Linked DNA regions of Homo sapiens. The protein of the gene in region 1 purifies or fractionates together with the protein of each later gene. This does not show direct contact. Each region holds a gene or a part of one and is shown on either strand. Other genes may lie near its edges.

Evidence for each region. Proteins that work in one complex are often made in the same cells at the same time.
Region 2: the proteins of EMILIN3 (region 1) and GID4 purify together in Homo sapiens (co-immunoprecipitation; 2 studies listed by BioGRID and IntAct, with this or other methods). This does not show direct contact.

The regions. Positions count from the first base shown.
Region 1 is NC_000020.11:41,358,720-41,362,874, reverse strand, and holds the end of EMILIN3 (EMILIN-3 precursor), read left to right. Parts: coding exon 1-1,607; 3' UTR 1,608-2,913; downstream 2,914-4,155. Other genes in the region: phosphatidate phosphatase LPIN3, read right to left, coding at 4,009-4,153.
Region 2 is NC_000017.11:18,041,194-18,046,332, forward strand, and holds part of GID4 (glucose-induced degradation protein 4 homolog), read left to right. Parts: intron 1-3,953; coding exon 3,954-4,013; intron 4,014-5,139.

The DNA.
Region 1 (4,155 bases):
GGCTTGTGGGCCCAGGAGACAGAGCCAGAGGGCCACTAACACCTCCCTTAGACGAGATCCTAAGCAAGGTGACAGAGGTGAGCAACACTCTTCAGACCAAGGTGCAGCTTCTAGACAAGGTGCATGGGCTGGCACTTGGCCATGAGGCCCACCTGCAGCGGCTGCGGGAAGCCCCACCATCCCCGCTCACCTCCCTGGCCCTGCTGGAGGAGTACGTGGACCGACGGCTGCACCGACTCTGGGGGAGCCTGCTGGATGGCTTTGAGCAGAAGCTGCAAGGCGTCCAGAGTGAGTGTGACCTGCGGGTGCAGGAGGTACGGCGGCAATGTGAGGAGGGTCAGGCCGCCAGCCGGAGGCTGCACCAGAGCCTTGATGGCCGGGAGCTGGCCCTGCGCCAGGAGCTGTCACAGCTGGGCAGCCAGCTGCAGGGCCTGAGCGTGTCTGGCAGGGGCAGCTGCTGTGGGCAACTAGCCTTGATCAATGCCCGTATGGATGGCCTTGAGAGGGCCCTGCAGGCAGTCACCGAGACCCAAAGGGGCCCCGGTGCCCCGGCCGGGGATGAGCTTACGAGGCTCTCTGCTGCCATGCTCGAGGGAGGTGTGGACGGGCTGCTTGAGGGTCTGGAGACGCTCAATGGGACAGAGGGTGGAGCAAGGGGATGCTGTCTGAGGTTGGACATGGGGGGGTGGGGAGTGGGCGGCTTTGGGACCATGCTGGAAGAGCGCGTGCAGAGCCTCGAGGAGCGCCTAGCAACATTGGCTGGGGAGCTAAGCCATGACAGCGCCTCTCCGGGCAGGTCAGCTCGGCCCCTTGTACAGACAGAGCTGGCTGTGCTAGAGCAACGGTTGGTCTCACTGGAGACTTCGTGCACCCCGAGCACCACCTCAGCCATCCTGGACAGCCTCGTGGCAGAGGTGAAGGCCTGGCAGAGCCGGAGCGAGGCCCTCCTACGCCAGGTGGCCAGCCACGCAGCACTGCTCCAGCAGCTCAATGGCACTGTGGCCGAGGTCCAGGGACAGCTGGCAGAAGGGACGGGCAGCTCACTTCAAGGCGAGATCACTCTGCTCAAGGTCAATCTGAACTCAGTGAGCAAGTCGCTCACAGGCCTCAGTGACTCTGTCAGCCAGTACTCTGATGCCTTCTTGGCTGCCAACACGTCCCTGGATGAGCGGGAACGCAAGGTGGAAGCCGAAGTCCAGGCCATCCAGGAGCAGGTCAGCAGCCAAGGCTCCAGGCTTCAGGCTGGCCACAGGCAGGTCCTGAACCTGCGTGGGGAGCTGGAGCAACTCAAGGCTGGTGTGGCCAAGGTGGCCAGTGGGCTGAGCCGCTGCCAGGACACAGCCCAGAAACTTCAGCACACAGTGGGACACTTTGACCAGCGGGTGGCACAAGTGGAGGGTGCGTGCAGGAGGCTGGGCCTGCTGGCCGCGGGCCTGGACAGCTTGCCCACTGAGCCACTGAGGCCCAGAGAGGGCCTGTGGAGCCATGTGGACCAGCTGAATCGTACGCTGGCCCAGCACACGCAGGACATTGCCCGCCTCCGGGATGACCTACTGGACTGCCAGGCCCAGCTGGCTGAGCAGGTGCGGCCAGGGCAAGCCAACTAGACAGGCTGGCCAGGACCCAACCCCTAGATCCCACCAACTCGGGGAACATCACCCCAGAGCCCAGCCTTATCCAGCAGCGCCTTCCAGCCTTCCCTGGCTAGCCCAAATGGCACTAAGGAGGCCACTGAGGGAATCCTCCACGTGGCTGTCCCAGCCACCAAAACCCATGCACAGTGCTGCAGAAACTGGACAGTTCCGGACAGCGGTCAAGGCAAGGATGTCATGCTTGAAGGCCAGGGTAGACTTGAGAGAGTTCACATTCCACTGTCAGCAAATCAGTGTCTGGACAGCCAGCTGCAGGGCCTGAGCATGGCTGGCAGGGGCAGCTGCTGTGGCAAACTGGCCTTGATCAGTGTCCGTATGTAAGGCCTTGAGAGGACCCTGCAGGCAGTCAGCACCAGCCTCAGCAACTGTGCAGAGACCTACAGGCCCACAGCCAGTGGCCTGTCCGCATTGCCCTGTGCCCACAAGCAACAGTCCACAGCCCTTGGTGGCTTCTGTTCCTTGTCCCCTCGGCTTCTCTTCGCAGCCATCAGGACTAGGTTTGTGCAGGAAGGTGATGCCCACTGGAACTCTCCTCACACCTGGCAGCTTCATGGATGTTGTATCTGAACTAAGGACCAGAGGCTGCCAGATGTTTCTGGCTCCTCACGTGTCCTTCAGGACAGAACAGAAGCACAAAGACTCAGCCAAGAGTTCTCTTTATTCCCTTTGATCCTCCCCCAAGGTGAGGGCTTAGGCAGCTGTAGAACCCCAGGAAAGAACGGAATCCAGGCAATCTGTTTAGAGACCCCCCACTCCAAATTTATCCTTTTCCTTTCCTTCCCCTAAGATGTTTCCAGGGCCCTCTGGTGCCCACACTGTCCTCTTCCTTCCACTTGGGGGTGGGGAAATCCTTCCTGCGAGGTCAGGGCATTTCTCTACAAAGTGGCCTGAATGAGGCCAGGCCCTGAGAAGGAGCCACCAGCTGGAGGAAAGGGGCTCCAAGCCTTGCTTTTAACACCCCTGCAAAACCCCCACCCTCCCAAGATGTTCACAAAAGGTGAGAAATTCAGGTACGAAACCATCAATGGACAACTTGAAAATGCATGTTCCTCAGGCCTATGCAGTTCCCAGAGACTCTTGACACCGGTCTCTGCTGAGGCTCCCAGCCTCAGTTTCCCCCACAGCAGCACGGGCCCCACTGTGCTGCTCTTCAGGTCCCCACAGCCCTGCCTTTGGTTCCTGGACATTTGGTATTCTGCCCTCCACTCTGGTACTATCAGAGTAGGGCAGGCTCTGGATTAAAGCTTTTAGCCGGTCTAAAGCTACTTTCTTCAAAGACAGTGGGAGGAGAGGTTGCTGGGGCATCAGCCCTGCTTCCCACAGCTCCTTAGGCAAGAGCTTACCCAGCAGCTGTGAGCACCAAGCTGGCCAGCAGAGGCTGGGGGAGGACTTTCAGGCCAACACCTGCCCCAGCTGAGTTTGGGACTGTCCTTAAGCGAGGTCTGGAGAGAGGCAGCGGCAGCAGCCGGACGGGGAGCAGGCCAAGCCGGAACCACAGCCTGCAGGTGTGGGTGTGTGTCATGTGCTGAGATGCCAGGGCACCAGCAAGGGGGATATGTTGGCAGTGATGTCTGGCTTCGGAGGGTACAGTCCTGGCTCCCAGACAAGGGGCGGGGAGAACACTGTGTCCTTCCAGAGGCTGTACCACACTCCCACTGCTGTCACCCTTCACTGAAGCCTCGAGCCTCGGTAGGGCCTCCCTCTTCTCCCTGTCCTATCAAGACTTACAGCAAGGTCCCAGGTTGACAGGGAGACAGATATCAAGGGCATAGAAAACCCTGCAAGGAGGCCTGGCATGGTAGCTCATGCCTGTAATCCCAGCACTTTGGGAGGCCGAGGTGGGCAAATCACTTGAGGTCAGGAGTTCGAGACCAGCCTGGCCAATGTGGTGAAAACCCATCTCTACTAAAAACACGAAAATTAGCCAGGCGTGGTGGTACACGCCTGTAATCCCAGCTACTTGGGAGGCTGAGGCAGGTGAATCGCTTGAACCCGGGAGGCGGAGGTTGCAGTGAGCCGAGAGATCATGCCACTGCACTCCAGCCTGGGCAACAGAACAAGACCCTGTCTCAGGAAAAAAAAAAAAAAAAAAAAAAAAAGAACCCTGCAAGGGCCCAGATGACAAGCTAATTGCCCCAGGACAGTGCCACACTGACGCCTGGAGCAGCTGCAGCTTAGCTGGCAAAAATATGACGGGGAAGATGGGGGAGTCTCTCTAGCTGCCAACCAACCTGCAGCCTCCTCCTTCCCCTTCAGTGGGTTTGCCCCATGACACTCCAATTCCCACCCTCCTATACCCCAGGACACCTAGCCAGTCCTGGGCCGGGCCAGGGAGGAGGAGCCAGCCAGGGCAGGTTCAGTCCAGGGTATCAAGGTCCACAGCAGGCAGTGGCTCCCGCCAGTAGCAGAAGTTACTGTATTCAGGGTTGGCCAGGTCTGTGCTGGGGCCACGGGCCACAGGTGGGAAGAGGAGCTCGACCACTTCACCAAGCCGCTCATACCT
Region 2 (5,139 bases), on another chromosome or scaffold:
TGCCTCCCCCCCGCCCCACCCCCCGGGGTGTGAGGGTGGAATGTACAGTATATTTATTCCTCAAGCTCTCCTTTTGGTCATTTAAAACAAATCTTAGTTTCACTTCTGAAGAGTAGGTCTCCCATCCAAAAGACAATGAGGGTGCCTTTTCTTTCTGCTAACTGCGGAGCACTCATCACTCTTTTATTCTCATACTGCTTTGTGGGAATAAATCATTTTCTCTGCTTACTTGAAACAGCATCGTCATGTTAATCATATCTTTGGGCTGTAAAGTTCTATCATGAGCCACGATAGTTATTATAATGGAAATACGATTGTGGCTGAAATATTTTTGTCTTCATAACTGTATGCCTAATGTAGTGATCCTCTTCTTAAAATGTGAGAGTCGAGTATGAAGGTACAGGGGTTTTTCGGTTTGTTTTGCACCTAGTCATAGAATTCTGGAGGTGAGATCCCTGGGTGGGTCACGTTTGGGATGATCTTGGATTTGTCCCTGTTGTTCAGTTTGATGGTTTCTGATGTAGTAGGGGACAATTGGCAAGATAGCCAGGCGTCAAAGGGGAGTCTGCTTTGGCTACTGCAGCAACTGCTGCTCCCTTCTGTCATTAGGGTATCACTTCTGAGCTCCTTTCAGAAGGAGAATCATGAACCAGGGGAAGCAGTGGTTGAGTTGGGGCAGGGCTGATAGGTCTCAGGCAGCCCAGAGCAGAAACCTGGTGGATGGCTGGGAGCCACTTGAGTAAGATGTCTGATGGTGGGGGTGGTGGTCATGCCAATGAATGCTGCCCTACATCTGGATTGGTGAGCTGCTTGGTCATCATCACGACTAGTCAGTGGCATGTGAATTGCCCCATCATCTGGTTTTTCAGCCAGGACTAGTTTGTCAGACACAGCCTTCTTAGACTTAAAATACTTCTGCCTTTTATAACTCAGCTTCTTTTTGTTTGTTTTGTTTTGTTTTCTTTCTTTCTTTTTGTATCTTTATTTAGATAGAATTCACTTATTTAAGGTGTACAATTCAATAGTTTTTAGTATATTCACAGTTGTTTAACCACCACCACAACCTAATTTTAGAATATTTTCATCACCCCAAAAGGAAACCTTGTATGTAACCCTTAGCCATAACCCCCACTCCAATCCTAGGCAACTGCTCATCTATTTTTGTTGTTGTTTGTCTATTCTGGACATTTCATATAATCACATAGTATTTGTCCTTTTGAGATTGGCTTCCTTCACTTAGCATAATGTCCTCAAGGTTCATCCATATGGTAATATGTATCAGCACTTATATTCCTTTTTATTTTGCATTGTTCATTGTAACAATTGTCCATTGAATGGATATACAACATTTTGTTTATACAGTGATCAGTTGATGGACATTTGGGTTGTTTCCACTTCTGGCTACTATGAATAATACTGCTATGAACATTTATGTACAAGTTTTTATGTGGATGTATATTTCACTTTGGTAGATAACTACCTGGGAGTGCAATTGCTGGGTCACATGGTAACTGGGTTTTAACATTTTGAGAAACTGGCCCTGCATTGTTTTACATTTCCACCAGCAGTGGGTGAGGGTTCCAGTTTCTCCACATCCCCGCCAACACTCACTGTTCATCTTTTTTGTTGTAGCCATCCTAGTGTTTTTGAAGTGGTCTCTCACTGTAGTCTTGATTTGAATTTCTATAATGACTGTGCTGTTGTGCATCTTTTCTTGTGTTTTTGTTGTTGTTGTTGTTTTGGAGTACTTTCTTTTCTGTGATTCTAGTGTAAAGAGTTCCTCAAACCTTTGTGAGTTTCTGACTGGGTCTCCTCTCCACCCCGCACTTACTGTGACTCCTCTTTCCTCCTCTGCCATCTAAGAAGCCAGCAGTAGAAGGGAGCCCTGGTCGCTGTGAAAGGAATATTTAAAAGAACAGCCGTTGGACACAGCTGTGCTGTGACACCTTCTTGCTAAACACGTGCCCTGTTATCTTTCTTGAGATGCTCGCCTGCCGTTTGGTAAAAGCTGTATGCGTTGTGGTGTATTTGAGTTCACCAACCATTATCAAGATCAATTTGGGCAGAGTAGAGAGACGCTTGGTTGAATGGAGGCCAAGCTGAAATTCTGATTCTTGAGCATGTGATAATCCATGCAAAATGTTAGCCAATTTACATTTCAATTTTTAATCTTATTAGCAAGTATCCTTGCCACCTGATACACTTTTCAGCAGCTGTGAAACTCCAAACTATATTGAATTCAATGAGAATTGCATACATGAAATTTAAAGACTCAGGTTAGAATTATGTGTCCTTTAATAAAAGTTCTTTGCTGAACCATGTTAGCGTGGATTAGCTGTTTTAGATAATGTCCAGTGCCAAGGTCAGCAGATGAGGATATTTAAAATGCTTTGGCAGTTTTCACAGGGAATACCTTTGTCACCAGCACCAAACTGTGAAGGCACTTTGGCTTCATTGAAGTTCATTTGCTTTGGTGCTGACATCATCTGGTTGACTAAGTTCATTACAGTTTTTAAGCATGGCTTAGTATTTGATTTATGGTATAATTGGAAGTAATCAGGTTCACAAATCTGATAAATGCCACAAAACTATTCTAATTTCTTGAAATAAGACCTCACTTAACATTAAAATCTCAGTGTACCACAGGTACCCTTGTACTTGGTTTGCTTTAATTCAAGGATTTACCTTGTAAGTGAATCCAATTGTCATGAAATCTGAAACTCCCTATTCAGAATGAGTCTGTATAGATTTGGGTGAAATCTCACATCAGGAGGATTTTTGAGGTGACGTGGCTTCAGGTTGGTTAATTCAGAGGCCTACGATGGGCCCAGTTTTTTCCATCTTTCTAACTACCATCCTCAGCATTTCCTGGCCTGTTTCTCCCCTGTGGTCTAGATGTCTCCCCCAGGACTGGACACTCCATGCGGATACTGTCACCACTAGGGGACAAAAAAGCCATTTCTTCCTCATGCGCCTCTTCAAAAGCCAGGGATTTTTCACAGATGCACTCAGGAGACTTACACATCTGATGAGCCAGAAATGGGTCACTCACCCCTAAATACATGACTTGCAAGGGGATAGGGACACCTGTGTGCCTTAGATCCATCAGGTTGACCAAGTCTTACGTGGTAGGTAGGTACCAGAGCAAAAACTGGACCCTGCCAGCGTGAAAAAGGAGGAAATTGTTTGTTGGGTAGGCATCCGGCAGTGTCTCAGCAACCAGTAATTGGTGACTGCTAAACCTCAAAGTCTACTATGCCTGTTATTTCTATTTATTTTAGGCTCCTGACTCTTTTCATTAAGAAACACAGCATCCATATATAAAATGCACAGAGTGAACATTCACAATATAGTCAGACTTTTGGTTGGCATTTTGGTTCATAACTGAAGTTTATACCACATAAATCTTTATAAGATGCCATTTCTGAACAGTCTGCCCATTTCATAAAGAGATAATGCAGGATGATGTTTAGTGTAAAAACTAGAAGAGGAGCAGACCTCCTAGACCAATGATTGAGCAATACAGAAATAGAAAAAGGCTTGAAAGACATTAGAAAGAAAGTCAAGCCTGAGGTTAGGGATGACACCACGTGTACAGGCAGAGACAGAGGCCCTGTGCCCAGCAATGCTCAAGGTCTCTAGATGACCGGGAGACGTGTGTTGAAGATAGTACAGAAAATGAATTTGAGTGGGCACCCCATTTCAGAAAGACACTTCAGTCTCATGATATTCAGCTGAAGAAAGTTGAGAGGGTCTTGGGATCAGTTTGCTTTGGCAGAACAGGCATGTGTGTGGGGAGAACTTATCAAGATTCCAGAGACTGGGTGAGCCTTGGACTGCCCTGGGTGTTCACTGACCACCAGTCTGGCCTCACAGGATTTGCAGAGTACCCTCCTGCATGTCCCCTAGTAAGTTTATCTATTTGTGACAGGCTGTGTATCCTTTCTTTTCAGCACGTGGACACGGGGAACTCTTACCTTTGTGGGTACTTGAAGATTAAAGGCCTTACTGAGGTAAGCACTTGCTCACACAAACCAGCACTAGAAAGTCTGTGGTGTGCTCCACAGGCTCATTGGGGTTCAGGGCAGGCGGTCTCAACTCCTTGAGGCCTAATTAAAGCAGACTACTCCTGAGCATTGCTACTGTATAGGGAACATAAAACAGGCAGTTTCAGTGTGTCCTGTTGAGAAGTGTACAGATTCACAAATGTTTTAAAGAAAAGTTTATAAGTACATCATAATTGTCACAACCAACACTATTGATTTTATTTTTAATCCTTTTTGGGGGAAAAAATAATAAGAATATAGCTGCCACCCTCATCATAAGTTTAACAGTTTCTGAGATAAGCATCAGTCCTATAAAAAATGAGCTTTTAAGTTCTTTAAGCCTCTTAGTTAATTGGAACAATGAAAAGTTACTGACTGGTCGCGGTGGCTCATGCCTGTAATCGCAACACTTTGGGAGCCTGAGGTGTGCAGATCACTTGAGGTAGGGAGACCAGCCTGGCCAACATGGTGAAACCCCATCTCTACTAAACATAAAAAAAAAAAATTAGCCGGGCATGGTGGCACAGACCTGTAGTTCCAGGTACTTGGGAGTCTGAGGCACAGAGAATCACTTGAACCAGAGAGGCAGAGGTTGCAGTGAGCCAAGATCACCATGCACTCCAACCTGGGCAACAGAGCAAGACCCTGTCTCAAAAAAAAAAAAAAAGAAAGAAAAAAAAGGGGAAGTGACCATCTAGTTTCCAGCAGAAGTACCTGCTGTGCAGAGTATTTTATTTTCTTTGAACCAAGTTTTTAAACCTCAGAACTCCTGGGACTTTAGAAAGCAAGGAGGAGCATCCTTTCTTTTCCATTAGCAAGGAAACAGGAAGTGGAAGGAGGTAGCTGGACTGGCCCTCCGAATGCTGGGAATGCCCAGGCTGGACCTAGCTGCAGGGGGCCTCTGGCCTTTGTCAGCTCTCATGGTCTGATGATCCAGCAGTATTTGGACAGAGTGCTGTGCTGGATGGGGCAGTGGAAAGGAGCTGGGGTGGCATTCTTCTTCTGCCCCTTCCTGCATCTGTGACCTTTAACTTCTTTCAGTGTCCTCATCTGCGAAGTTGAGAATTAAAAATTCCTGCTCCAGGCTGGGTGC